7 separate regions of the Homo sapiens genome follow, and all the other regions are linked to region 2. Evidence: fine-mapped expression QTL. A gene starts in region 2. Each other region holds a variant in brackets. All regions are shown on one strand. Distances are between the middles of the regions.

The links.
Region 1: its variant is fine-mapped to the expression of TOP1MT in whole blood (INTERVAL, PIP above 0.99).
Region 3: its variant is fine-mapped to the expression of TOP1MT in whole blood (INTERVAL, PIP above 0.99).
Region 4: its variant is fine-mapped to the expression of TOP1MT in cerebellum (GTEx, PIP above 0.99). The same link has a PIP of 0.9 or more in cerebellar hemisphere.
Region 5: its variant is fine-mapped to the expression of TOP1MT in whole blood (GTEx, PIP above 0.99). The same link has a PIP of 0.9 or more in unexposed skin.
Region 6: its variant is fine-mapped to the expression of TOP1MT in subcutaneous fat (GTEx, PIP above 0.99). The same link has a PIP of 0.9 or more in lung and sun-exposed skin.
Region 7: its variant is fine-mapped to the expression of TOP1MT in whole blood (TOPMed, PIP above 0.99). The same link has a PIP of 0.9 or more in lung, sun-exposed skin and unexposed skin.

The regions. Positions count from the first base shown.
Region 1 is chr8:143,612,727-143,616,778 of GRCh38, reverse strand. It overlaps GFUS (GDP-L-fucose synthase), which reads left to right. Exons shown (of 11, transcript NM_003313.4): 2 at 56-212; 3 at 559-673; 4 at 1,864-1,992; 5 at 2,082-2,155; 6 at 2,326-2,459; 7 at 2,551-2,615; 8 at 2,962-3,028; 9 at 3,176-3,255; 10 at 3,484-3,583; 11 at 3,814-4,052. The coding sequence starts at 67. The coding sequence ends at 3,869. Among named protein-coding and RNA genes, the nearest start is that of GFUS, 2.8 kb to the left of the region's middle. The variant G/A (reference allele first, on the strand shown) is at 2,476.
Region 2 is chr8:143,333,184-143,337,247 of GRCh38, reverse strand. It overlaps TOP1MT (DNA topoisomerase I mitochondrial), which reads left to right and starts at 2,368. Exons shown (of 14, transcript NM_052963.3): 1 at 2,368-2,508. The coding sequence starts at 2,387. RefSeq lists a silencer at 2,211-2,670 and enhancers at 2,871-2,920, 2,460-3,144.
Region 3 is chr8:143,676,371-143,680,434 of GRCh38, reverse strand. No RefSeq gene overlaps it. Among named protein-coding and RNA genes, the nearest start is that of ZNF707, 6.1 kb to the left of the region's middle. The variant A/G (reference allele first, on the strand shown) is at 1,938.
Region 4 is chr8:143,293,867-143,297,919 of GRCh38, reverse strand. It overlaps ZNF696 (zinc finger protein 696), which reads right to left. Exons shown (of 3, transcript NM_030895.3): 3 at 1-2,180. The coding sequence ends at 1,120. Among named protein-coding and RNA genes, the nearest start is that of ZNF696, 4.5 kb to the right of the region's middle. The variant G/C (reference allele first, on the strand shown) is at 1,906.
Region 5 is chr8:143,360,452-143,364,515 of GRCh38, reverse strand. It overlaps a transcript of RHPN1 not described here. Among named protein-coding and RNA genes, the nearest start is that of RHPN1-AS1, 6.2 kb to the left of the region's middle. The variant G/T (reference allele first, on the strand shown) is at 1,790.
Region 6 is chr8:143,287,336-143,291,399 of GRCh38, reverse strand. No RefSeq gene overlaps it. Among named protein-coding and RNA genes, the nearest start is that of ZNF696, 2.0 kb to the left of the region's middle. RefSeq lists a silencer at 1-448 and an enhancer at 1-494. The variant C/T (reference allele first, on the strand shown) is at 1,582.
Region 7 is chr8:143,312,825-143,316,888 of GRCh38, reverse strand. It overlaps TOP1MT (DNA topoisomerase I mitochondrial), which reads left to right. Exons shown (of 14, transcript NM_052963.3): 11 at 763-890; 12 at 1,068-1,162. Among named protein-coding and RNA genes, the nearest start is that of TOP1MT, 20 kb to the left of the region's middle. The variant C/T (reference allele first, on the strand shown) is at 2,426.

The sequences.
Region 1 (4,052 bases), 280 kb before region 2:
GGCTCCAAAGGATGAGAGCGTGATGACCTCAGCCTCCCACTGTTTGACATTACAGGTGCAACTGACATGGGTGAACCCCAGGGATCCATGCGGATTCTAGTGACAGGGGGCTCTGGGCTGGTAGGCAAAGCCATCCAGAAGGTGGTAGCAGATGGAGCTGGACTTCCTGGAGAGGACTGGGTGTTTGTCTCCTCTAAAGACGCCGATCTCACGTGAGTGAGCCCATCCCCAGATCAGCCCTTCCTCTCCATCCTACCCCCCACCCTAGAACTAAGAGTTCCAGGCTGGGCATGTTGCTGAGTCTAACAGTAGCTGTGTTTCTGGGTCCTTCCTGCCAGGTGGCTGGCCTGGCCTGGGTGTGCTTGGCTGTGTTCCTGGAAAAACAAACACCCTCCCATCTCTTCCTGGAAGCCTGCACCCTCATATCAGCCAGGCCCTGGGGCCACCCTCCCTTTTGACTGTCCCTCCTGCCATAGTCCCACCCAGTTCCTGCACTTGGCACCCAACCCTGGGGTGCTGGTTCCCTCCAGAGCCTCCTGACAGCCTGGCTTCCTACAGGGATACAGCACAGACCCGCGCCCTGTTTGAGAAGGTCCAACCCACACACGTCATCCATCTTGCTGCAATGGTGGGGGGCCTGTTCCGGAATATCAAATACAATTTGGACTTCTGGGTAAGTGAGGGTGGCCCCAGCAAGCACTGGAAACCAGGATCCCAGGTTCTGGGAACTTCCTGGCGGGCTTCCCACTCTCACAGGCCCACATTCCCACCCCAGGAAGTCCCTGAGGATCAGGGCTTGGCACAGCCTGGTGGGGGCAGCCCCTGAGGGACCCCCAGTCACTCACACTTGGTGCTGTGGACAGAGGGCCATGCAGGGGGCCTGGAGGCACTTGGCCCAGTAGGCAAAGCTGTGGAGCTGACTTGCAGCATTGGGAGGCTGAAAAGAGCCAGCGGCCACGTGGGACTGGGAGCTGGTTCCTGCCCCCTGAGTCCCCAGGGCCTCTGGAGCCTCTGGCTCCCAGGACTGTGCTGGCCCAGCTCCCCTTAGCCGGGCCCACCACACACTCTGGGGTGCAGGGGTGTGAACCGCGCTCTGTGCATCTGCTGCCTGTGTCTGGGGGAAGGGGGCGTGGTGTAAGGGCCCTGCCGTGGCTAGCTGTGTTCCGGAGGGTTGGCCCCACCAGTCACTGGGCAGCAGCCTTGCCTTAGCTGGCTTTGCTAAGCGTAGGAGGCACTAGCGTGAGCAGAGGCTCAGAGGAGATTCTGCCCAGGAGCCCTGTCACCCCAGAGCCCTCTTTGTCGGTGTCTCGGCCTTCCCAGCAGGCTGCCTGGCCACCACCTCTCCCTTCTCCCAAGACCAGTCCCAGGGCTCCAGCCATGCCGTGTCTAGTTCATGCACGGGAAGTGGGGCCCGCGGGGTGGACCCGGCAAGCGCAGGCTCCATTGATCCTGGGAAGTAGAGCCAGGTGGGAGCTCCTCCAGGGTGGGGAAGTAGACCGCCCTGTTCCCCGTGTAGTGGGAGCCCCAGCCCAGCCCAGGGCCAGACTGGGCTCCTTCCCAGCCTCCAGTGGGGTCCTATGCCCTGACCTCAGCAGCCTCCTGGGTGGGGCCCAGCCCTGAGCTGGGGGTGTGGTTCTCCTCATAGTGGAAGGCAGAGCCAGCCCCTCCTCCAGCCTTGGTGGGGCTGGAGAGCAATGGTGTCTGTAAGCCCACTGCCTTGTCCGGAAACGGTTAGGATGGGCAGGCTTGGGTCCTCCCAGGGCTGAAGGGCCAGGGTGTGTCTCCACTTCTGCGTCTGGAGGAGCAGGTAAGGGCTGGGATCTGGCCTGGGGAGCCTGAACTGTCCCCGCCTCACCCCTGCAGAGGAAAAACGTGCACATGAACGACAACGTCCTGCACTCGGCCTTTGAGGTGGGCGCCCGCAAGGTGGTGTCCTGCCTGTCCACCTGTATCTTCCCTGACAAGACGACCTACCCGATAGATGAGACCATGGTGAGGGGCAGGGCCTGGCTGTGGGTGGGGCCGGGGAGCCGGTGGGCAGGGCCAGGAAGTAGCGGCCTCTGCCTCTCCCACGCCCGCAGATCCACAATGGGCCTCCCCACAACAGCAATTTTGGGTACTCGTATGCCAAGAGGATGATCGACGTGCAGAACAGGTCCTCGCGCCCATCCTGCTGAGGCCCAGCCAGGAGTCGGGGAGAGGGCCCCCAGGGGCGGGTGGGGCCGGCTGGTCGGGTCTTCGTGCCAGCCTCAGTAAGAGGCCAGCGGCAGCCTGGGGTGGGATCGCGGGCCCAGGACGAGGGCAGGAGACGCTGTGCCTCCGCAGGGCCTACTTCCAGCAGTACGGCTGCACCTTCACCGCTGTCATCCCCACCAACGTCTTCGGGCCCCACGACAACTTCAACATCGAGGATGGCCACGTGCTGCCTGGCCTCATCCACAAGGTGCACCTGGCCAAGAGTGAGTGCGTCCGTCC[G/A]ATGGGGTGCCCGGGCTCAGCTCGGGAGGAGGTGACCCAGTGCCTCTGACACCTGCTCCTTCCCCAAATCTGCAGGCAGCGGCTCGGCCCTGACGGTGTGGGGTACAGGGAATCCGCGGAGGCAGTTCATATACTCGCTGGTGCGTAAAGGAAGGCACAGCTCTCCCCAGAGAACCTGCCCTATTGAGCCCTGGGCTGGCCCCTGCTGGGCTGTCGGGGAGGTGGTGCAGGAGGGAGGCTCCTACCAGCAGAGAATCTGGGCTGAGCTCCAAGAGGAGCCATCTCTGGTCCTCGTGGAGGCCCCATAGGCTCCTGTCTCCAGGAGTCACTGGCGTAGCTCTGAGCTCCAAGGGAGAAAGGAGGGACCCCTGTTCCCCAGGCTGAGCCCCCACTGAACAAGGACAGCAGTATGGACTCCCCAGCAGGGGCGTTTGGGAGAGGGTTGGCTATACCCATGGTCTCTGACCCTGCCTGTCTGACCTCTAGGACCTGGCCCAGCTCTTTATCTGGGTCCTGCGGGAGTACAATGAAGTGGAGCCCATCATCCTCTCCGGTGGGTACCTCAGCCCTCAGCCCCCTTCCTCCATGGTAGGACAGGATCCAAGGTTGTCCTGGGAGGCTGGCTGAGGGGTGGGAGCAGGAATATTCATGGGCCGTCGGGTGGCACCAAGGGGAGGCCTGACCCGGTGGCTCCCCACAGTGGGCGAGGAAGATGAGGTCTCCATCAAGGAGGCAGCCGAGGCGGTGGTGGAGGCCATGGACTTCCATGGGGAAGTCACCGTATCCTCTGGCTCCAGTGCTGGGGGTTGGGCGGGGGCCCCTTGGGCGGGCTCAGTGGCCACCCGGTGTAGGGCCAGCGTGGGTGGGACACTGCGGAGGGAGGATGCTCACCCTGGCAGGCGGAGGAGCTCTGCTGTGGCTCCCCTGGGAATGGCAGAGGTTCAAGGGCAAGCTGCGGGGGCTGGGGTGGAGGTGCTCTTCTCGCTGTGGCCTTGACAAAGCCTCCAGTTTGATACAACCAAGTCGGATGGGCAGTTTAAGAAGACAGCCAGTAACAGCAAGCTGAGGACCTACCTGCCCGACTTCCGGTTCACACCCTTCAAGCAGGGTGAGCCCTGACCCCACAGCCCTCCACTTGGTGGAGGCCTGCCCCAGCCCCTCCCTCATGCTCGCTACCAGGGCAGAGGTGAGGTGCCCCCTCAGAGCCTGTACTGCCCTGGAGGTGGGACACCAAAGCTCTGAGGGGTGACTTCCCTGTCCCTGGGCCTCCTCCCCCCACTTCCTCCCATGCGGCCCCGACCCTCCCTGTCCATGGCCCTCACCTGCCTGCCTCTGCAGCGGTGAAGGAGACCTGTGCTTGGTTCACTGACAACTACGAGCAGGCCCGGAAGTGAAGCTGGAAGACAGGATCAGGTGCCAGCGGACCATCGGCTGGCAGAGCCCAGCGGCCACCACCCGTCAACCCTGCCAGGAGCTGAGGGCACCACCCAGCAACCTGGGCCTGCATTCCATCCGCTCTGCAGCCCCAAGCATCTTTCCAGTGGGGCCCCCATTCACGTTGGTCCTCAGGGAAACCA
Region 2 (4,064 bases):
GTAGAGACGTTTTAGCCAGGATGGTCTCGATCTGACCTCGTGATCCGCCCGTCTCGGCCTCCCAAAGTGCTGGGATTACAGGCGTGAGCCACTGCACCTGGCCAATGCTGTCTTAACCATATGAAATCATCCAGTCCGTGAACATGGGATGGCTGCTCATTTATTTAGGCTGTCTTTAATTTCTTTGGGCAATGTTTTACAGTTTTCAGAGTATAAGCTTGATACTTCCTTTGTTAAATTTATTGTGCAGTATTTTATTTTTTCATGCTATAATAAATTATTTTCTTAATTTCATTTTCAGTTTGCGTATGGCTACTGGTTAGAAATACAACTGATGTTTGCATATTGATCTTGTACCCTACAATTGTGCTGAATTCATCTATTAGCTCTACTAGTTTTTGTGGATTCTTTTTTAAATTTTATTTTCCATAGAGATAGGGTCTCACTATGTTGCCCAGGCTGGTCTTGAACTCCTTGGCTCAAGTGATCCACTTGCTTTGACCTCCCAAAGTGCTTGGATTACAGGCATGAGCTACGGTGCTCGGCCAATTTTTGTGGATTCTTTGGGATTTTCTATATACAAGATTATGCCACCTGCAAATAGACATAATTTACTTCTTTCTTTCTGATCTGGGTGTCTTATTTCATCTGCTTGCCTGTTTGCTCAGTTAGAGCCTCTGGTACCATGTTGAGAGGCAGTGGTGAGAGTGGACATCCTCGTCTTATTCTTCATTTCAGCAGGAGCGTCCAGTCTTTCTTCTGGCATATGAGGTTAGCTGCGGGGTTTTGTAGATGCTGCTTTTCAGGTTAAGTTTCTTTCTATTCTGTTCTTGAGTGGGTTTTCCATTCTGTTTATCATGAAATGGTGCTGGATTTGTCTGCTGCTTTTTCTGCATCTATTGAGAAATCTTAGGGTTTTTGTCCTGCCACACTCCCTCTTACAAAACCTGAGGAACCAACTGGGCATCGGCTCACACCTGAAATCCCAGCACTTTGGGAGGCCAAGGTACTTGAGCCCAGGAGTTCGAGACCAGCCGGGGCAACATAGGGAGACCCCATCTCTACAAAAAGTAAAAAACAAAAAATCAAAAACCCTTAGAAACCTGAACTGGAAAACACATTGACCTCAGGATTCCGTTGAAGGAATGGTGGGCCTGGGCCAAGGCCCTCTTCTGGTTTGTAGAAAGGGTTACCTGAAAAAATATGCATCACTGTTCCGCAGCCCCTGGGAGGAGGTGGCCCACCTGGAGAGTCAGCTGCTGTGTCCTGGTGTGTGTGTACCTTCAGCTGCTGAGCTGCTCATTCTGAAATGATGGGACACCTACCAGGTCTGCCTGGGCCCTAAGAGCGAGCAATTGCAGCCCTCGGCCTCTGCCCATGGCTTCCAGCAGCTAGATGACATGGACACTGAGTCAGTTGGTGGCAGGGGAGGGTCGCTGAGGGCGTGCGGTGGCAGCCCGGACTCCTTTCCTGCCTGTGTCCACTGCATTCCCCCCAACGGTCACAGTGAAAGTGCGGAATGCATGTGAATTCATCTGCTTCCCACGGTCCTGGTGTCAGGGTTTTACCGGGGAAGACCAAGGCTGCGGTGCTGCCAGAGGTGAGCGGTGTGGCCTGTTGTGGCTCAGGGCCTACCGCCAAGTGCTGATCTAGAGGTTTTGCCCCTTGGCCATGCTCCCCAGTGAAGACACTGGGGTTAAACCCTGGTCAGGGTCAGCAGTCACGCTGGGGACTGAGCGCAGGAAGGAGGCTCCAGCTGTGCCTGGTCTCTGGTCTCCTTGGGAGTGAGAGGCTGGTTGGCAGGGATGATTTCGCAGGACTTCCTGTGACCTTTGTCCAGAGGCACCACCTCTGAGGGGCTGCTGTGGGCTGGACAGCAGGTGCTTCTGCCGGTTTCTGCGTCCTGGAAGTGCTGCTGTTTGTAGGGGATGAGGTAGGGGGCCATCTGAGCCTGTGTGGTCCCTTCTCCAGAGCAGCAGAGCGTGTACTTAGGAAGGACCTGCTAGGTGCCCCTGCCCTCAGAGGCTCTGGGAGAGAGCTGTGTGCAAGCCCTGGGCAGGAGTTCACTGGCCTGGTCGTGTGACCTGTGGGGCATCCTGACAGCCAGCCCTGTGCTGCAGAGGTCAGTGGGACTGGGTTTGGATCTGGGTCCCCGCCCAGCGTGAAGGGGCGCTGGACCACGAAGGCAGGGAAACCAGGGGGAGGCCGGCAGGACAGTCAGTGGTCCTGCTGCCGCAGCCCCGTGCAGGCTTAGACCGCCCAGCCTTGGGATGAGCGCCGCTGGGGGCGGAGGCCGCGCTCGGGGGCGGGGCTGGCCGCTGGGGGCGGGGCGGGGCTGGCCGCTGGGGCGGGGCCCAGCTTGTCGCTCTTTCCCGGAGGCTGGCAGATGCGCGTGGTGCGGCTGCTGCGGCTCCGGGCGGCTCTGACGCTGCTCGGGGAGGTCCCCCGCCGCCCGGCCTCCCGGGGTGTCCCGGGCTCGCGCAGGACGCAGAAGGGCAGTGGAGCCAGGTAAGGTGTCCCAGTGAGCAGGCGGCGAGGGCCCTGAGCACCGGGCTTGGGTAGGTCCAGAAAGGGGAGTGGCAGGCCTCGTGGGACGGCCTTGCCCTGCTTCCGGTTTTCCCAAAAGTCGGGCCAGGAGAGCATGCGTGCCGCGGTGTGACCGGCCCGCCTCCTGCCCGGGGTGTACAGGCCCCCCCATGACGTCGCCCTTGCTTCCCCAGGCACCACCCCACCAACCCTATTTGGGGAAATCTCCCCTCTTTTTTTCCGCTTGTGGTTTCATCATTTGTGTAGCTGTGCCTGGGCCTCAACACTGTAGGGTTTGGTTAGGTACTTTATAAAAAGCTTATGTTGCTGTGCATGGTCTTCTGAGACCCGCTCTTTCCTGGAGTCGGTTCCCGGGTTGTCTCCAGGACCGATTCTGCATGGCGGCGGGCGCTCACTGTCATATCTACATCACCAGGCACAAGCCGCATGGATCCAGTGGCCCTGGTGGCCGTTGGTGGTCCCAGGCGCTTTCCTGGAGGACATGTGAGAAGCCCTGCCGGCGCATACTGGGCCTGGGGTAGCCGCATGGGGATGGGTCTCTGCGCATGAAATGCTGGAGTTTCCGAAGAGCTGGAGAGTTGACAGCCTCACTGGTGCGTGGGAGATCCTGCAGGAGTTCCCGCCAGGTCTCGCGGTTTATCATCATTCACTTAGTGCTTCCAGCGTGGCATGTCTCTGTGACCTGGTGGTGCGCTATCAGCATACCCATTCACAGCTGAGGGCCTGCACAGCTGCCTAAGGCCATGCTGCAGAAATGTCCTGTCTGCCTGCAGGAGCTTGGGACCCAAAGAGAGCCCCAGATGGGGCAGGGTGTCTTGGGAGGAGGGAGTTCTGGCCTGCGCTTGGAGCTGGGGCTGGCTGTGGGCCCTGCATTGAGGCACATCTCTCCGAGGGTGCACAGGCAGGTAGGTGCTTTCCAAAAAGTGCTGCTGAGCTGCAGTCGCCCAGGTGGACAGGTGGGTTTGGAGCAAGGTCTCTGGCTTTGAAAGCCAGCTTGTGTCTGATGGTGGTGCTTGGTGCCCTGGTCTCTGCAGGGGTGAAAGAATGTCACTACAATGTGCAGCCCTCAGTTGGGCTTGAGCGCACACCCAGTGGTGCAGCCCTGCCTGGCCGCTGGCCGGCAGGTTGTTTCACCTCAGTGTCTTCATCTGTGAAATGAGACTGGTGATGTGACTACCCTAGAGGCTTTGTGAAGGACTTGGCAGTCAGGGTCACTGTCAGTTCTTTATTTTTATTTTTATTATTATTATTTGAGACAAAATCTTGCCCTGTCACCCAGGCTGGAGTGCAGTGGTGCAATTTCAACTCACTGCAACCTCTGCCTCCTGGGTTCAAGTGATTCTCCTGCTTCAGCCTCCTTGAGTAGCTGGGATTACAGGCACCCGCCACCACGCCTAGCTAATTTTTGTATTTTTAGTAGAGACGGGGGTTTTGCCATGTTGGCCAGGCGGGTCTCGAACTCCTGGCCTCAAGTGATCCGCCCGCCTCGGCCTCCCAAAGTGCTGGTATTACAGGCG
Region 3 (4,064 bases), 340 kb before region 2:
AGGCAGAAGAATTGCTTGAACCCAGGAGGCAGAGGTTGCCGTGAGCTTGTAGCAGGACAAGATGCAGACAAAACTCTCAGACACCAAGTCAAAGAAGGAAGGAGTTTATTTGGCCGAGAGCATTGGCAAGACTCCTGTCTCAAGAGCCGAGCTCCCTGAGTGAGCAATTCCTGTCCCTTTTAAGAGCTCACAACTCTAAGGGGGTCCGCGTGAGAGGGTCGTGATCAATTGAGCAAGCAGGGGGTACGTGACTGGGGGCTGCATGCACTGGTAATCAGAACGGAACAGAACGGGACAGGGATTTTTACAATGTCTGGAATCTATAGGTAACACAACCGGTTAGGTCAGGGGTCAGTCTTTAACTACCAGGCCCAGGGTGCGGCGCCGGGCTGTCTACCTGTAGATTTCATTTCTGCCTTTTAGCTTTTACTTCTTCTTTCTTTGGAGGCAGAAATTGGGCATAAGAGGATATGAGGGGCAGTCTCCTCCCTTATTCCCCCTCTTTGAGACTCTCACTCATTTTATTAGTGGGAGTTCTCACCTTCTTCCTCACTAGCTATGTCTTCCTGCATGACAGAGCGATAGTGATTCATGAAGTACACTTGTGCTGAAGCATTCTTTTTTTTTTTTTTTTTTTTTTTTTTTTTGAGACGGAGTCTTGCTCTGTCGCCCAGGCTGGAGTGCAGGGGCGCGATCTCGGCTCACTGCAAGCTCCGCCTCCCGGGTTCACGCCATTCTCCTGCCTCAGCCTCCTGAGTACCTGGGACTACAGGCGCCCGCCACCATGCCCAGCTAATTTTTTTTTTTTGTATTTTTAGTAGAGACGGGGTTTCACCGCGTTAGCCAGGATGGTCTCGATCTCCTGACCTCATGATCCGCCTGCCTCAGCCTCCCAAAAAGCTGGGATTACAGGCGTGAGCCACCGCGCTCGGCTGTGCTGAAGCATTCTGGTGAACTAGAGTAGTGATGAAACCTTTTACCATTTGAAGGAGTACAGGTAGTAAACAACGGATCAGTAAGCAGGTTCTTATTACTACTGTAATTTTTATTATAAGAGTTTTAAATCCTCTTAGCGCTGGGAACCATTTTCAAACATGGCCTCAGGATCAAATCCGTGCCACGCTTGTACAGGCACATGTGCCAGTTTCGTCATGTCTTTAACTGTATCTTCAACTACTTGCCCCGATCATGTATGTGCAGGCAGCAATTGGTAAGGTTCAATTTCCCACAGACTTCTCCTTCAGCTGCTAGCAAGTAGTCGAGAGTCAATTTATTTTGATAGATAGCATTTCTCATCTGAGTTTCTTGCCGGGCCAGAATAGTCAAGGCTCTGCCGGTCCTATTAGTGATTATTTCTAAGACAGCTTGTAACCGTATGATTTGGTTGAGCATGTAGATGGGGGTCCGGTATCCCCACAAGCCATCTTGTGCCCAAGTAGCAGGCCTATAATATTCCATCATTCTCTCAGGGGGCCATTTATTATCTTTCTTATTTTTTTATAGCTATGCTTCTCTTTTCGCGGGAAACATAGGGAAGCCCAGGAGTTCACCTGTCTTTATAGGCAGTAGGAAGAAAGATGGTTTAATAGTGCCAATCACACAACTGCCTGCCCACTGGTCGGGTAATTTGGTGTAAGGCCTATGCCCACACATTCAGTATAATCCAGTGGGGGCTGTCCAGTCTCGGTGGGACTCCGGATGGGTCCACACGGTTTGCAACTTTGGGAATTTACTAAATGGATTTTTCTTAGTATGGTTTGAACTCCACTAGGTGGCTGTTTTTGTAGTACCATTATACAGTTTTTGCCTAAGGCAGCTGAGTCGTCCTACAGGAAGGGTGAAGTCCTTCCTTACTCTTTTTTTTTTTTTTTTTTTTTTGAGACGGAGTCTTGCTCTGTCACCCAGGCTGGAGTGCAGTGGCGTGATCTCAGCTCACT[A/G]CAAGCTCTGCCTCCCGGGTTCACGCCATTCTCCTGCCTCAGCCTCCCGAGCAGCTGGGACTACAGGCGCCCGCCACCACGCCTGGCTAATTTTTTATATTTTTAGTAGAGACGGGGTTTCACCGTGTTAGCCAGGATGGTCTCCATCTCCTGACCTTGTGATCCGCCCGCCTCGGCCTCCCAAAGTGCTGGGATTACAGGCGTGAGCCACCGCGCCCGGCCCCTTACTCTTGCTATACAGTATTGTCTAGTGATTGAGGCTTTTAGGACCCGGAAGTTATCAGGGTGATTTTTCTGAGCCAGGAATTCGTCAGGAACTGGGTCTGTAGGTACTAATTCTTGGGCTTCCCGTGGCCATTGGTCTTTTATTATAGTTCCTCCACACACATAGCATGAAGTGACATTGAGAGACTGGGCTACATGGTCAGCTAATTGCAAACAAATTTCTTATTTTTCCTGGAATTTCTGGTGCTGGCACATTCAGTTCATCATAGAAGGTTTGAAATACTGGCTCAGGAGAGCGTTTATAAACTTCTCCTCAAACCACAATATTTACTTGAAGATCCAGTCCAGCCCCATGAATTTCTAGGGTTATGGCCGGGCACGGTAGCTCACGCCTGTAATCCCAGCACTTTGGGAGGCAGAGGCGGGCGGATCACGAGGTCAGGAGATCGAGACCATCCTGGCTAACACGGTGAAACCCCATCTCTACTAAAAATACAAAAAATTAGCCGGGTGTGGTGGCGGGCACCTGTAGTCCCAGCTACTCAGGAGGCTGAGGCAGGAGAATGGCGTGAACCCGGGAGGCAGAGCTCGCAGTGAGCCGAGATCGCTCCACTGCACTCCAGCCTGGGTGACAGACCGAGACTCCATCTCAAAAAAAAAAAAAAATTCTAGGGTTACACATTTCCTTTTTTTCCAGCGAGGATTAAGGGGGTTGGTTATTACTAGTTCTAAGGGGTTACACTGACCACTGGTATAGGAAGGGCCACTTTTCCTTTTCTGAAGGTGGACAGAATTTTTTTCATTTTTTATCCAAGTAGCCTAAATGACACAAGACCAGTAACTACATTCATTTCCACACAGTCCTAACTCATGATAAATGTACTTATTTTCTGCCATACAGCCTCTTTCCTAATGAAGAGAACCACATCCTATTCCTAACTTATTAGTATTAATGACAGCACAGGCATCACACTTCAAGGTGACTTGTTTGGGCACCTCTTTTTGTTTGTTTTTTTTGGCTAACACTTTACTCATATTGTTTATGAGCCCCCACCAGTCTTTAATTCTTAATCTTATTTGAAAAACTGTGGTCATGGGAGGCTCAGATGGGTCATAACACACATCAGGTTGGTCATTTCCTGGGCACATACCTTGTATAGAATAACATTATACAAACAAGTTCTTTTTAGAGTTCCAGTACACTTATAATAACCGTAAAATAATGGGACTGTAGCAACATTTTGTCCTCCCTCAGTGACTTGATGTATACACTAGGAACAGTCCTCAGTCTGAGGAGGGTGAGTTGAAGTCCTTACTGTACAAGTCCAAATTTTAAGGAAAACGAGTCCTGCGATGAGTTTCCTCATGCTTCGGCCGTGCATGGACCAGTCAGCTTCTGGGCGTGACTGGAGCAGGGCTTGTCGTCTTCCTCAGAGTCACTTTGCAGGGGTTGGCGAAGCTGCTGCTATCCACGTACTGCTCACAGTCTACTGATGTTCAAGGATGGTCTCGGAGGTTGCGCCTGCTAGAATAAACTGAGTCCAACACCTCTACACAGTTATGTTCAACTGGGCTCCCCGATACCGGGAGCAAGGTGCTGGGGTTTAGGGTGTTGCAAACTGCAGTGGTTATGTGGGGATTTTCACACAGCAAGCTTTGGTACTTGGTTAATCTAGCATTTGTTAGCCAATGATGTCCTTTGGGATTCATCAAAGTTACCACAGCATGGGGGGCCTTTATATTCAGGTTTTGTCCAAGAGTTAGTTTATCTGCTTCTTGTGCTAACAGGGCCGTTGCTGCCGGGGCCCTTAGACACGGGGGCCAGGCTTTGGAAACCCCCTATAGTTGTTTAGAGAGATAGGCCACTGCCCTTAGCCAGGGCCCCACAGTCTAGGTTAAAAC
Region 4 (4,053 bases), 39 kb after region 2:
AAGAGAAAACGATTCCTCTACCCACAGAACGCTTCTGAAATCACATGTGTGTAAGCCTTTCCCTCCACACCAACCAGCTCTCCAACTCCCTCTCAGACACCAACGCGATGTCCTACAATTTAACTCGATTCTGTCACCAATTGCCCGGAGCTAGTGCAGAACCCACAGGGTAAGGGGTCAGTCCCACAAGACCACCCCGACTTCAGATGCCAAGTGCAGACGGTGGGCCCCGGGGACCCCACGACCCCCTTCTCAGGTTCCAATTTTTTTTTTGAGATGGGTCTCTCTGTCGCCCAGGCTAAAGTACAGTGCCCAGATCTCCGCTCACTGCAACCTCCGCCTCCCAGGTTCAAGTGATTCTCCTGCCCCAGGCTCCCAAGTAGCTGAGATTACAGGCGCACGCCACCACGCCCAATTAATTTTTTGTATTTTTAGTCGAGATGGGGGTTTTGCCATGTTGGCCAGGATGGTCTTGATCTCTTGACCGTGTGATCCGCCCGCCTCGGCCTCCCAAAGTGCTAGGATTACAGGCGGGAGCCACCGCACCCGGCCAAGTTCCATAATTTTCTAAGCACACAGAAGTCGGGACCATATGAACCGGCTGTGAAAAGGCGTTGAAATACATGGATGAACCACCGACCCGCAAGGTACGGGGGAGGACGCGAGGCTTCCATGCCCTGTCTGGGCGCCCCCTTCCTAACTGCCCCCCCACCCCGCCTTCACCAACCCGAAGCCCGAGGCCCTCATCTCATGCAGGGTTTTGATGGAGGCCTGGTTGCGGAGGAATGACCGATTCAATCACCGGCCACTGCCCCGCAGCAGCTGACCGTGGGAGGCGGGGAGTCTCAGAGGCGGGCGGCCGGCCCGGGACAGACCCCTGAGACCTCCCCGCCTCTGGGAATCGCCTCCCGCGGGCAGCGCTCGCCTTCCCCGAGCCCTGTCTCTCCTGATTGCTCCCAAGCCAAGGCGGATGCAGGCCTGGCGAGGCTTTCGCAACCCGAGAACCAGGCGCGCAGCCGGCTGTTACTTCCTCACCGCGCACGGGGCGGACAGGAGCCTCCCCCGGCCTCGGCCTCGCGCCCACCAGGCCGCCGGCATCTCTTCCGCCGCAGCCCCGGCTCACTCGGCGCCATGCACCCGCCGGTGCTGGATGAGGTGGAAGCTCAGGCGGAAGGCGCGGCCGCACTCGGTGCAGCGGAACGGCTTCTCGCCCGTGTGGAGTCGCTGGTGCCGGAAGAAGCCCGACAGCGCCCGGAACGCGCGCCCGCAGTGGCCGCACTGGTGGGGCTTCTCCCCGGTGTGGATGCGGCGGTGCTCGCGGAGGAAGGAGCTGCGGCTGAAGGCGCGGCCGCAGTCCTGGCAGGCGAAGGGCCGCTCCCCCGTGTGCACGCGCTGGTGCTGGAGGAGGTTGGAGCTCTGGCTGAAGGCCTGGCCGCACTCCCGGCACTCGTACGGGTTCTCCCCGTGGTGGGTCCGCCGGTGCCGGACCACGTTCGAGCTGTGCAGGAAGCGCTTCCCGCACTCGCCGCACGCGTACAGCCTCTCCCCGGTGTGGGTGCGGCGGTGCTTGGCGGCGTCCGACCTCTGGCCGAAGGCCTTGCCGCAGTCGGCGCACGCGTAGGGCTTCTCGCCCGTGTGCACGCGCTGGTGCCGGAGGAGGTTGAAGCTCTGGCCGAAGGCCTTGCCGCACTCGGCGCACGCGTAGGGCCTCTCCCCGCTGTGCGCCCGCTGGTGCCGGACCACGTGCGAGCTGTGGATGAAGGCCTTCCCGCAGTCGCTGCACTCGTACGGTTTCTCCCCCGAGTGGATGCTCCGGTGCTTTGCCGCGTCCGAGGAGCACTTGAAGCTGCGGCCACAGGCGCCGCACGGGAAAGGCCGCCCCTTCCAGCTGCCCCCGCCCTCTGC[G/C]CCGGGGCCTGCGTTCGGAGGGACGTCTGACTCGAGGCCACTCTGTCCTCCAGTTTTCTCAGAAGTGACCGGGCCTCGAGGGGAACCTCCGGGCCTCTCTCTGGCTTCCTGGTTTTCACAAAGGCCAAGAGACCCCAACGCCCGGGGAGGCCCCCCTCTGTGGCCCTCTCCCTCGGGAGCGCCTGCCTCTGCGGCAGGCTCCGTGCTCTGAGCTGCCTGCACCTCGGCTGACCGGCTGCCACTCGGGGCCTGCGCCAGGAAAGCAGCCTTCACAGCTGAAAAAGAGGCCAGACAGGAACGATTTTAGATGTAAGAGAACGTGAGTCGAGGGTGGCTCTGGCAATCGTGGTGACGACAGAGTGACAGTGATGGTGACGTCAGTGTGCCACAGACACCTTTGATTTTGCCCATTCAGTTCCCGCCTCGTTTTTTTTAGTTTTTTTCTCCTCCCCACCTTCTTAACCCCCATGGTTATGAGGTAGACGAGAATCCTGCACTGCCACTCCAGAAACGGGGCTGTGGGGCCGGATGTGGTGACTCACACCTGTATCTCCGCACTTTCAGAGGCTGAGGCAGGAGGACCACTTGAGACTTGGAGTTCAAGACCAGCCTGGCCAACATAGTGAGATCCTGTCTCTTAAAAAAATAGAATTTTAAAAATATACAAACAGAAACGAGGCTAAACGGGGCTAGAAACAGGGCTAAACCTCTAGCCTCGGCCCACCCAGTCCTGGGAGGGGAGGGGACAGAAACGCAGGCTCTGGGCACTGCCTTACTCTGCGGGACAGCTGGGAAAGCAAAGGAGGCTGGAGACAGCTGGCAGCAAGCCAGGACGGGAGCGAGGCAGATGTAGCAGGAGGCCCGGGGACAGTGGCACCCAACAGAGCCCACGGCCCAGCTCTGCCTTCTGTCTGTCCTTCCTTCCTTTCTTGTGAGCCAGGGTCTTGCTCTATCACCCAGGCTGGAGTGCAGTGGTACCATCATGGCTCACTGCAGCCTCAGGGCTCAAGTGATCCTCCCTCCGCCTCCCAAGTAGGTGGCGCACCTCCAGGTGAGCACCACCACACCAGGCTATTTTAAAAATTTTTTGTAGAGACAGTGTGTCAATGTGTTGCCCAGGCTGGTCTTGAACTCCTGGGCTCAACCCTCCTCCCACCTGAGCCTCCTAAAGTGCTGGGATTACAGGTGTGAGCCACCACACCCAGCCATGGCCCCAGCTCATTCCTTTTACCTTGGACTCCCTGAGACAACGCAGACTCCTTAACAACTGCCCCCAAACACCAAACTCTAAGGGCTTCTGTTATGTGCAAACAGGAGCGTCCTCACTCAGACAGAAATCCGGACCAAGAGGCCAGTCGCGGTGGCTCACGCCTGTAATCCCAGCACTTTGGGAGGCTGAGGTGGGCAGTTCACGAGGTCAAGAGATCAAGATTAGGTGAAACCCTATCTCTAATAAAAATACAAAAATTAGCTGGGTGTGGTGGTGCACACCTGTAGTCCCAGCTACTTGAGAGGCTGAGGCAGAAGAATCACTTGAATCCAGGAGGTGGAGATTGCAGTGAGCTGGCGCCACTGCACTCCAGCCTGGCGACAGAGCAAGACTTTGTCTTAAAAAAAAAAAAAAGAAAAGAAAAGAAATCCGGAACAAGAGCTGGAAGCAGCAACCCACGTCCCATGTGGGCTGGGCGGCGGCGGCGCTGGTCAGGCTGAGCAACCCCATCCAGGCTGCGTTATCAATGGCCCTTGTCTGGCAGTCAAGCCACTGGTTAGATTTGGTTCCACTGGCTCACAGGGACAGACCATGTGGCCATTTAGAAAAAAGGCTTAAGGGGTAGGGGTGAAACCCTGGGACATGAGAAAGCTGGCAACTGAGCTTGGCCTGCATAGGAGGCAGGAGGACTCAGCCAGGAGGGGCAGCAGGAGGAGGGGGGCCAACGAGGCCAGCACAGCAACTGAGGAGGACTTCTCAGTCTGCAGGCAGTCCGCTGTGGCAGCAGAGGAGAAGCGGCTGAGTCCCAGCTGCACCTCTCAAGAATGTGGAGGGCGCAGATAAGACGGAAGCTCCTGTGGAGGTGGGGGTGGGGCAGGGATGTTCCAGGGCAGATGAGAGCAGGCTGCTATCGACAGTCCCCACCTCTCTCTGCCCTT
Region 5 (4,064 bases), 27 kb before region 2:
TCATCTTCTGGGTGCCCTGCCAGGCCCTGGTGGGGCCTCCGTAAGCAAGGAGCACCCAGCCTGCTCTGGGACCTTCCCGGGCTGTGTGTGCTTATGTCCCTCCCGGCCGCTGAGGGACCTTCCCAGGCTGTGGGTGCTCATGTCCCTCCTGGGTGCTGAGTGTGCTTAGGGAGGGAGGGAGGGAGACGCCCATGGTTGGCCTGCTGGCTTCTGGAGAACTGCACTTTTCTGGCAAATAAAAAGAAAAGGATATGGGGAAGGGGAACACATGATTGTCCTTGGAATGTGGCAGAGTGGCCTGCTGTGGACTTTCCTCTGGTTGCCAGTTTCATTCTTAGGACAGTGCCTTGGTGAGGGTGCCCCGGGCACAGCACACTGGGTTTCTGCAGTGGGCACTTACTGGCACTGATCCCAGCAGCTGGATGCACCTGTGGCGTGTTTTATACAACTGAAGCGACCATGGCCTTCTGTGGTCCAGCCTGGTGCAGAGCCCACCGCCATAGAGCAGTGATACTGGAACGTGTGTGAGGGTTGCCGGTGGGTTCCACGGGGCGGTGGGAGGAAGAGGTGTAGAGGACTCCGACACTGTTTTGGCCTTGGCAGCTCAGAGATGGCTGGTGTGACCACCATACGGGGACGGTTTGGGAGGAGGAGGTTTCGGCAGGCAGAGCCTTGGGTTTGGGATGCTGGGCTGGAGCTTCTCTCACACAGCTCAGGGGAAGGGTCCTGAAGGCTGCCGAGTCTCCAGCTCAGGGGCCAGGCTGGAGGCCAAGGTCCACACTGTAGACGTCTTTGCTATACAGTTGCTGGGGACAGAGTGCCAGGATAGTTCACGACAGTGGGCCCAAGGAGGAGGGCAACAGAAACAGGGTCAGGTGGCCCCCAGGAGCTCAGGGAGGAACCAGTTCCAAGGGAAGCCAGTGACCAACACATGCGCCATCCTGCGCCATTGACAGCAAGACCAGGCTGCCAAGAGTGGAGGAGGCTGGTGGAGACCCTGTTGGAAGTGGTCTCAGGGGGCTTTGAGAGTGAGACCTTTTCTTTTTGAGACAGGCTGTCTCATTCTGTTGCCCAGGCTGGAGTGCAGTGGTGTGATCACAGCTCACTGCAGTCTTGAACTCCTGGGCTCAAACAATCCTCCTGCCTCAGCCTCCCAAGCAGCTGGGATTACAGGCATGAGAAACCATGCCTGGCTCATTTTTGTATTTTTTGTAGAGACAGGGTCTCCCCATATTGCCTAGGCTGGTCTCGAACTCCTGGGCTCAAGTGATCCGCCAGCCTCATGAAAGTGTTGAGATTACAGGCATGAGCCACTGCACCCAGCCAAAGAATGAGAGTGCTTCAACGGGGATTAAGGTGAGTCAGAAGAGCAGAGACGGCCATAGGGAGTGGGCACATTTGAATTCTGAGGACAGGTGCAGTACTGTTTGTGGGGCCAGGGGAGGGCTGATGGGTGGCTGGCACTTAATAGGGGGCGTGAAGTGTTCAACCACGGTAACAGGAGAGAAGATGGAGGGGAGCAGAGGTTTGGTGGGTGGGGGGCACAGGCGGGACAGATGCCGTGTTGGGAGTGTGGGGTACCTCTGTGGATTGTCCCCAGGTGTCAGTGACACAGGAAGCAAGGCCTCTGCCCAGAGTGGCCAGGGAGGGGAAGCGGGCAGGACGGGCTGAGGACAGGGGCCGGGGCCCAGCCGAGGTACATGGAGGCTCAGAAGACCGAAGGCTGGGCTGGACCAGGGCTTAAAGGGAAGGAGAGGGGCAAGGGCCAGCCCCGTGGTGGCTCAGATGA[G/T]GATTGTGTCTCGCTGAAGTATTGTGATGCACACAAGAAAAACGTTCTTTTTTAAAAATATTTTATTTAATTTTGAGACGGAGTCTTGCGGCCGGGCATCATGGCTCACGCCTGTAATCCCAGCACTTTGGGAGGCTGAGGCGGGCAGATCACGAGATCAGGAGATCGAGACCATCCTGGCCAACGTGGTGAAACTGCGTCTCTACTGAAATACAAAAAATTAGCTGGGTGTGGTGGTATGTAACCCGGGAGGCAGAGATTGTAGTGAGCCGAGATCGCGCCACTGCACTCCAGCCTGGTGACAGAATGAGACTCCGTCTCAAAAAAAAAAAAAAAAAAAAAAAAAAAGAGACGGAGTCTTGCTTTGTCGTCCAGACTGGAGTGCAGTGTTGCGATCTTGGCTCATAGCAACCTCCGTCTCCTGGGCTCAAGAGATTCTCCCGCCTCAGCCTCCCGAGTAGCTGGGATCATAGGCACGCGCCACCACACCTGGCTAATTTTTGTATTTTTAGTAGAGACAGGGTCTCACCATGTTGCCCAGGCTGGTCTCAAACTCCTGGCCTCTAGTGATCCGCCTGCCTCCGTCTCCCAAAGTGCCGGGATTACAGGCATGAGCCACCACACCCGGCCAAGATAAAAGTTCTTAATTCCAAGGACTGTTAATCATTTGTGACCTAATCTAGATTCAGTCTGGATGGAGTCTCTGATGTCATTACTGAATACCTTGTTGTCAGACATTTTTGGATACAATTTATAGTTTTTGAGCCCTTCCCAGTCAACTGAGGCCAAGGCTTTTTCCCCAAATCTGAGACCACCTAGGCATAGCTACCCTCGAAAATGTACATCATCAGGAAATATGGATCATCTATTTACCAAGCAAAAGAGGGAGCATTATTCAGTGGAATCAAAACCTTCTTCTCCCTGAAAACCTGTTTCTATTTTCCACGTGTGACTAATTTTTAATCTCGGTGACTGAGCGGTAATGGTGTTGTCACTGATGCTGACGATGGGCTTTTTAAAAAGCATATGATCTATGCTGCCTTCATAGTATCCTTTTTTGGTTATTGTTTCTGTGGCTTTCTGAGTAAAATAAGCTCAGCGTCTGTGGCTCTAGCAACCCCGGCGCCATTGTAGAGGAGATGCCATCTGCATGCAAAGGTTCTGCGGTGCCTGCTCCACAGAAGGCTGCCTCTCCTGGCCATTACTCACCACAACAGGAAAACAGCTATCTGCCTATGTCCATTTGTTAAGAAGGCAGTAACATGGCATCTTTAATAAACTCAAATAAATGCACTAAAACTTATCACAAAATAGCCAAGTTGTAAAGTGAAGGAGTGTTTGTAATAACCTCTTCTGTCTTCCCCAAGTGTACGTTTTCCAGGCAGTTCTCCTTACCGTGACAGGGCTTTAGGGCCAGAAGACAGCGCCACTCACCGGACCACCCAAACTAGAAGCCTGGGCACCATCCTCAACTCGCTCATTCTCATTTCCACACCCTACTAATTATCAGACACCTCCCCTCAACCTCTGCAGGCCTGCGGTTTAGGCTCCTACTGTCTCTGGCCTGACCAAGCCCTGTTTCCTCCTGACCTGCGAGCAGTGTGCCCACTGGTGCCATCATCTCTCTGCAACATACAGGGGATCATGTGGGGGTGGTGCTCCCCGGTGCCCGCACCATCGTGTCAACACGCGCCAGCCCTTCCCCAGCCCCACCACGCACACACATGCAGTGCGGCTGACGCTCTCAGCACCCTGCCTTTCCCATGCACCCCAACGCCCCCCCGCCCCCAGCACCTGCAACTTCCTGCCTGAGCGCTTTTCTCAGTGCTTAGGGGTGCTGGCCTATGCCCGGGGCTTGCTGGAAGTGCAGTTGGCAGAGGTGGGGCGGCAAGGATGGCCCCTCAAAACCAGAGCAAACCCACTCGGAACTGTGTCCTGTGCTCTCCCAGAGGCCTCCAGGAGGACTAGTCCAGGGGCCCCGGCTCTCACCTGCTCCCCAACACGTGTACTTCCCTACTCCCTTACCTGTGCTTCCTGAGTCCACCTCCCGGATAAAATACCTGCAGGAAGAGCCTGCTTTGGAGGGAGCCGTACTCCACACTGGCCACCGGTGGCCACTTGCCGTGCCCTTGTACACAGAGCTCCCTCTCGGCCTGGAGGCCTTCGTCCATTCTGCTACCGCGGCCACATCCGCTCAATTTTCCAGACTCAGCCTCTGGGATCTCACGTCACCCCAGACTCACGGACCCCGACATGGCGCATCCTGCACCCCACG
Region 6 (4,064 bases), 46 kb after region 2:
GCGCCGGAAACGCCAGTCTCCACCCCTGGCCCGCCCCCTCGGCACTTCCGGCGACGCTCTGGGCAGCGGGAGGACAGCGCGCTCGGCGGCGGGAGAGCGGGACGGCCCAGCCGCGGCGCCTTCAGCTCATCGGTTGCCCGCAGGCGCCGGCCGAGTCCTTCCTGCCGGGCAGGAAGCCCTGCCTCGTGGGGGGCAAGGTCGAGCCGTTGGCGCGCCGGGATCCGGCTCGAGCCAACTGAGGACCGGGCACCCGCAGGACGTGTCAGGAGGTGTCGAAGGCCCGCTGTGGGGCGGCCACGCGCGTTCCCGTCCGTTCCCCGCGGCGTCCCGCGCTTGTCCCGGGTCCCGCTCGGCTCACGGGACCCTCCAGGCCCCCGGGGCTGTGGCAGCACGCGGGTCCCGAGCGTGGGCTTCCTTGGGGCCGAGAGCTTGGAGCGCCCCAGGCGCTGCCCCCCGCCTCCCTGCAGGACGCCGCCCTCGCGTCTCCGCTGCAGAGAAGCCCTTGCTGCCCGCCTCTCGCGGGCTCTGGGCTCTTTCTCACCAGGGACCGAGCTCTCATTCGTTCAGCCTTCCCCGGGCAAGATGCACCTCCTGTCCAAGTCTCTCGCCCTTCCGCCTGCCGCAGACCGAAGGTCACGCATCTCCAGCTGGAATGCTGCAAAAGTGACGCTTTTCATCATGGGTGCAAAGTGTACAGCTGCAATGTGGACTTGTTCCCTCTTACAACGAGTAGACAGACCCTCTCTGGGGAGAAAAGAAAGGCTGAAGAACCGATTCCCATGAGAGAACCCTAAGAAGACAGCAACAGAGGGCCAGACGCGCCCCTGGAACTGGACCCTGGACTGGGGCGGGAGGGCCACAGCCTTGGGAGCCCAGGTCCCTGCCCGCGCCTCCGACAGTCCCGCGCCGCCGCCACCCGGCATCTGCCTCTGGGCCTCCACATCTCGTGCCTGGAACCGCGTTCATTGCGCACTGCACCAGTAAACACCTGAACACTCCCACCACATGCTGCACGTTTATTTGTAACAAATTAGAAGCTGTTGTAAAAGATAAAAATTAAAACACTTAGACTGGGTGGGCGAGAGGCTCATGAATGTAATCCCAGCACTTTGGGAGGCCAAGGCAGGAGGATTGTTTGAGTCCAGGAGTTTCAGACCAGCCTGAGCAACATAGTTAGAACCGTGTCGACTAAAAATTTTTTTTAAAAATTAGCCGGGCGTGGTGGCCGGCGCCTGTGGTACCAGCTACTCGGGAGGCTGAGGCGGGGGGACCACTTGAGCTCGGGAGGCGGAGGCTGCAGTGAGCCGAGATTGGCACTGCACTCCAGCCTGGGTGACAGAGATTCTGTCGCAAAACAAAAACAACAACAACAACACACACCACACACACACACATCTAAAAGAGATGATGTAGAAGTACAAGTAACCGTTTCCCTCTGCATCCCAGTGGAACGTCGTGGGTCTTCTGAAGACCCTCTCTTGCCCTGCAGGCTCCGGTACTCCAAGCACGCGAGTCTGCGCAGGAGGCGCTTCGCTCTCCGGAGCTCCCCACTGCCTCCTAGACACAGTCCCGGCTCCTTAC[C/T]CCGGGCGGAGGCTCTTCCAGACGGGTCCCGACTGCCTCTGTATGCCCACTGCTGCCGTGCCAGAAGCCACTGCCCTCTCCTCGCCCCTTTCCAAATGTGCCCTGCCTCAGGCCCGTGTCATGCTGTTCCCTGTGCCGCTTTCGCCCGTCCCCTCACTCCCCGCCACCAGAACCGGGAAGGCGGTGCCCCCTTTCCAGGCCCAACTTCCGGCACTGAACCTCTAGGAGTCCGCAGCCTCCTCCGCCCGGGCCTCTCCCCGCTGGCTCAGACCGCAGGGCCAGCAGCCCCGCCCACACGGAAGCCCCGCCCATCAGGCCGACCCCGCCCCTCCTGCCTCGGCCCCGCCCTCGCCTTGGCCCCGCCTCCTCGCTGGCAGCCGGCAGGCGCAGTCGGGGTCGTGGGACCCAGGAGGGGCCTCCAGCAGGTGCCTTGGCGAAGATCCTGGACTGCGTCACAGCCCAGGGTAGCCGTCCCGCGGCCCGGCTTTGGAGCTTCCCACGGACACCCGGGGCTCTGCCTCCTCCGAAATCACCCCTCACCGCTTCCCTCCTGCTCTCCCACAATGGGAGGCCACACGCTGGGGCCCCTGAGAAACAGAATCGAAAACACAAGGCAGGACTCCAGGGACATGGGGGTGGGGGAGTGAATCCAAGCAACTCAGGACGCCCGCGAATAGCTCAGATCCTGCGAAGAGCCCGCGCCCTGGAATTCTGTTTGCTAAGGGGGTCCTCACGGTGTAGGGTGAGACAGAGAACCTCTGGGCAGTTGCAGGTGGTAAATGTCCATGATAAAGGGCAAGTTCACAGTCTAGAAAATTCTGGATTTCTTGATCCAAAAGTAGCCGAGTCCAGGCCGGAGAGGTGGCTCACGCCTGTAATCCCAGCACTCTGGGAGGCCAAGACAGGAGGATCACTCGAGGTCAGGAGTTCGAGACCAGCCTGGCCAACATAGTGAAACCCCATCTCCACCAAAAAAAAAATTACAAAAAATTAGCCAGGCATGTTGGTGCTTGCCTTAGTCCCAGCTACTCGGGAGGCTGGGGCAGGAGAATTGCTTGAATCCAGGAGGCGGAGGTTGCAGTAAGATTTCGCCACTGCACTCCACAGTGAGACTCCGTCTCAAAAAAAAAAAAAAAAAAAAAAAAAAAAAAAAAGTAGCTGAGTCTTAGAATACCACCCCTTCAAGGACTGTTTCCATGAGCCTATCCACTGAGTCTCTTACCTGCTACCCTGAAAAAAAAAAGTACGATGAAGAAATTACCAAAGGCACCCCTGAAAAACAAAGACAGCTGGGCCTGGCGCAGTGGCTCACTCCTGTCATCCCAGCACGTTGGGAGGCCGAGGCGGGTGGATCACCTGAGGTCAGGGGTTTGAGACCAGCCTGGCCAACACGGTGAAATTCCATCTCTACTAAAACTACAAAAATTAGCCGGGAGTGGTGGTGTTCGCCTGTAATCCCAGGTACTCGGGAGGCTGAGGCAGGAGAATCACTTGAGCCCGGGAGGTGGAGATTGCAGTGAGCTGAGATCACGCCATTGCACTCCAGCTTGGGTGACAGAGTGAGACCTGTGGGGAAAAGCAAGAGAGATCAGATTGTTACTGTGTCTGTGTAGAAAGAAGTAGACATAGGAGACACCATTTTGTTCTGTACTAAGAAAAATTCTTCTGCCTTGAGATTCTGTTAATCTATGACCTTACCCCCAACCCCGTGCTCTCTGAAACATGTGCTGTGTCAACTCAGGGTGAAATGGATTAAGGGCTGTGCAGGATGTGCTTTGTTAAACAGATGCTTGAAGGCAGCATGCTCCTTAAGAGTCATCACCACTCCCTAACCTCAAGTACCCAGGGACACAAATACTGCGGAAGGCCGCCGGGTCCTCTGCCTAGGAAAACCAGGTATTGTCCAGGGTTTCTCCCCATGTGACAGTCTGAAATATGGCCTCGTGGGAAGGGAAAGACCTGACCGTCCCCCAGCCTGACACCCGTAAAGGGTCTGTGCTGAGGAGGATTAGTAAAAGAGGAAGGAATGCCTCTTGCAGTTGAGACAAGAGGAAGGCATCTGTCTCCTGCCCGTCCCTGGGCAATGGAATGTCTCGGTATAAAACCCGATTGTACGTTCCATCTACTGAGATAGGGAAAAACCGCCTTAGGGCTGGAGGTGGGACATGCGGGCAGCAATACTGCTTTGTAAAGCATTGAGATGTTTATGTGTATGCATATCTAAAAGCACAGCACTTGATTCTTTACCTTGTCTATGATGCAAAGACCTTTGTTCACGTGTTTGTCTGCTGACCCTCTCCCCACTATTGTCTTGTGACCCTGACACATCCCCCTCTCGGAGAAACACCCACGAATGATCAATAAATACTAAGGGAACTCAGAGGCTGGCAGGATCCTCCATATGCTGAACGCTGGTTCCCTGGGTCCCCTTATTACTTTCTCTATACTTTGTGTCTTTTTCTTTTCCAAGTCTCTCGTTCCAC
Region 7 (4,064 bases), 20 kb after region 2:
TTCTGGGTGAGGGCATAGGGGCCGAGGCCGGGCCTGGGAGAGGAAATGAAGGTGCTGGGCCCACTGTGGACGTGCTTCCAGAGCTGGGTGGGCCATGCAGGATGGGCGTGAAGGAGTGGCCGCTCCAGTAGGTGCCTTGGGGCCAGTGCTTACGTTCTCTGAACCTCATTCTTGACTGGAAAATGGAGACAACGTGGTACCTTGAGGGGATGTCGCCAGGGGAAGCCGGGTGCTGGGGACTTGTGACAGGCAGGGACCCACAGACTCGCCAGGGGAAGCCAGGTGCTGGGGACTTGTGACAGGCAGGGACCCACAGACTCGCCAGGGGAAGCCGGGTGCTGGGGACTTGTGACAGGCAGGGACCCACAGACTCGCCAGGGGAAGCCGGGTGCTGGGGACTTGTGACAGGCAGGGACCCACAGACTCGCCAGGGGAAGCCGGGTGCTGGGGACTTGTGACAGGCAGACTCGCCCGTCCAGGCGGCTGGGCCTCCTCCTTGCCATGGGGCCTGGGAAGGCCCGGGTGGTGCTACCTGTGCTGTGGCCCCACGTGAAGCCTTGTTGCTGTGGTTAAAGACGCTGGGCCCTGCTCTCGAGGCCACCTTGGAGGGTCACTGACCCTTGGCCCTCACTCTCCCCATCCCAGTGGGTGCCTGTGTGAGTGGAAGGGGCTGCGCTGTGTGGCGCGTTAAGGCCGGCTCAGGGCAGACAGGGAGGGTGGCCGGCCCCGTGGGTGCTGCCTCTGACAGCCCGTGCCTCTCAGCCGAGGACAGCATAGCAGCTAAGATCTTATCCTACAACCGAGCCAACCGAGTCGTGGCCATTCTCTGCAACCATCAGCGAGCAACCCCCAGTACGTTCGAGAAGTCGATGCAGAATCTCCAGACGAAGGTAGCAGCTCCCAGGAGAGCCCCCAGCCCAGCCCTCAAGGGACCCCTCCCCCTCCCCAGAGCCTCGGCACAGGCCTGGGAGCCAGCTGCGGTGGGCACGTAGGGTGTGGAAGGGTGTGGGCACAGGGGCTGGTGCGGGATGGGGAGGGGCAGCCCTGTCTGGACCCTTTTCCTGCAGATCCAGGCAAAGAAGGAGCAGGTGGCTGAGGCCAGGGCAGAGCTGAGGAGGGCGAGGGCTGAGCACAAAGCCCAAGGGGATGGCAAGTCCAGGAGGTGAGTACCCGTGCCCTCAGACGCCTTCTCCCGGGGCCCTGTCCCAACCCGTAGGGTCCAGCCCCACAGGGTCGGTGGGAGACGACCCTTGTTGTCTCCTTGTGCGGAGACGAGAGATTGTAGAAATAAAGACACAAGACAAAGAGATAAAAGAAAGGACAGCTGGGCCCGGGGGACCACTACCACCAAGACGCGGAGACTGGTAGTGGCCCCGAATGTCTGGCTGCGCTGTTATTTATTGTATACAAAGCAAAAGGGGCAGGGTAAAGAGTGTGAGTCATCTCCAGTGATAGGTGAGATCACGTGGGTCACATGTCCACTGGACACGGGGCCCTTCCCTGTTTGGCAGCCGAGGCAGAGAGAGAGAGAACAGTTTACGCCATTATTTCTGCATATCAGAGACTTTTAGTACTTTCACTAATTTTCTACTGCTATCTAGAAGGCAGAGCCAGGTGTACAGGATGGAACATGAAGGCAGACTAGGAGCATGACCACTGAAGCACAGCATCACAGGGAGACGGTTAGGCCTCCGGATAACTGCGGGCGAGCCTGACTGATGTCAGGCCCTCCACAAGAGGTGGAGGAGTAGAGTCTTCTCTAAACTCCCCTGGGGAAAGGGAGACTCCCTTTCCCGGTCTGCTAAGTGGCAGGTGTTTTTCCTTGACACTGATGCTACCGCTAGACCATGGTTGGCCTGGCAATAGGCATCTTCCCAGACGCTGGCGTTACCGCTAGACCAAGGAGCCCTCTGGTGGCCCTGTCTGGGCATAACAGAAGGCTCGCACTCTTGTCTTCTGGTTACTCCTCACTATGTCCCCTCATATCTCTGTATGGCCTGGTTTTTCCTAGGCTATGATTGTAGAGCGAGGATTATTATAATATTGGAAAAAAGAGTAATTGCTACCAACTAATGATTAATGATATTCATATATAATCATATCTATGATCTATATATAGTATAACTATTCTTATGTATTTTATTATACTGGAACAGCTCGTGCCCTCAGTCTCTTGCCTCAGCACCTAGGTAGCTGCCGCCCACACCAACCCAGATGTGGCAGCTTCAGACGCGCCTTCCCATGGCCAGTTTTGTTTTCCTCTTCAATTGTTATTTTGTGATTTTTTTTTTTTTTTTTTTGAGATGGAGTCTCTGTCGCCAGGCTGGAGTGCGCTGGCGCGGTCTCAGCTCACTGCAACCTCCGCCTCCCGGGTTCAAGTGATTCTCCTGCCTCAGCCTCCCGAGTAGCTGGGGTTACAGGTGCG[C/T]GCCACCACGCCCGGCTCATTTATTTATTTAGTAGAAACGGGGTTTCTCCATGTTGGCCAGGCTGGTCAAACTCCTGGCCTCAAGTGATCCTCCTGCCTTGGCATCTCAAAGTGCTGGGATTACAGGCATGAGCCACTGCACCTGGCCAACTTTGTGATTTTTAAAAATACAAACTATATGCCTTGTGGACAAGAGTGGGACACATGGAGCCGTGGGAGGAGGAGACCCTGGCCGCCAAGGAGGTTTGTGATTGTCATTGTGGGGTCAGGAAATGAGAAGAAGGTGCCAGACTCTTCTCCAGGGCGGCGGCACCATCCCCTCCCCACCAGCAGTGTGTGAGGGCTCCGATTCCTCTGTCCAGGCGCCACTGTAGGGTCAGTTTTCCATGTGTCGATTAGAGCCCAGTGGGTGTGAAGGAGCGTCTGGCCGTGGGTGCTCTTTGCAGGTGCTTGTTGCCCACTTCTGTATCGTCTCTGGAGAATGACTGCTCAGGTCCTCTGTCCATTTTCCAGTCGGGTTGTTGTTTTATTATTGACTTGTAAGAGCTCGTCGATGTTTCGCCCACTCTTGGGTTGTCTTTGTTCTTTCTTTTTTTTTTTTTTCCTTTGGAGACAGAGCATTGCTCTGTCGCCAAGGCTGGAGTGCAATGGCATGATCTCGGCTCACTGCAATCTCTGCCTCCAGGTTTCAAGCAATTCTCCTGCCTCAGCCTCCTGAGTAGCTGGGATTACAGGCACCCGCCACCATGCCCGGCTAATTTTTTTGTATTTTAGTAGAGACGGGGTTTCACCATGTTGCCCAGGCTGGTCTTGAACTCCTGAGCTCAGGCAATCTGCCTGTCTCGGCCTCCCAAAGTGCTGGGATTACAGGTGTGAGTCACTACTCCCAGCCCTATTTTTTTTTTTTTTTTTTGGTGATGGAGTCTTGCTCTGTCACCCAGGCTAGAGTGCAGTGGCGTGATCTTGGCTTACTGCAACCTCTGCCTCCTGGGTTCAAGCGATTCTCCTGCCTCAGCCTCCCGAGTAGCTGAGACTACAGACACACACCACTATACCTGGCTAATTTTTGTATTTTAGTACAGATGGGGTTTCACCATGTCGGTCAGGCTGGTCTTGAACTCCTGACCTCGGGTGATCCACCCACCTCGGCCTCCCAAAGTGCTGGGATTACAGGTGTGAGCAACTGCGCCCGGCCACATCTTTCTTCTTTCTTGTTGGTGTCCTGTGACACATTTAAGATTTGGATGAGTCAGCGTGCTGAGAAGGCTTTGCCTAACCCAAGGCCATGAAGATAGATTTCTCTGTTTTCTCCTAAGAGGTTTATTGGTTTACTCTTACATTTAGGTCATTGGTTCTGAGTTAATTTTTGTGTGTGGTCTGAGGGAAGGGCCCAGGGTCATTCTCTTGCATGTGGACAGCCAGATGTCTCAGCATCCTAGCTCACCATAGTCTCAACTTGCTGGGCTCAAGCAATCCTCCCGCCTCAGCCTCCTGAGTAGCTGGGACCACAGGTGCCAACGGCCACAACTGGCTAATTTTTACACTAAGAAAATTTTTGTATGTTGCCCAAGCTACTCTTGAACTCCTGGCTTTAAGCAATCCTGCCTTGGCCTCCCAGAGCTCTGAGATTAAAAGTATG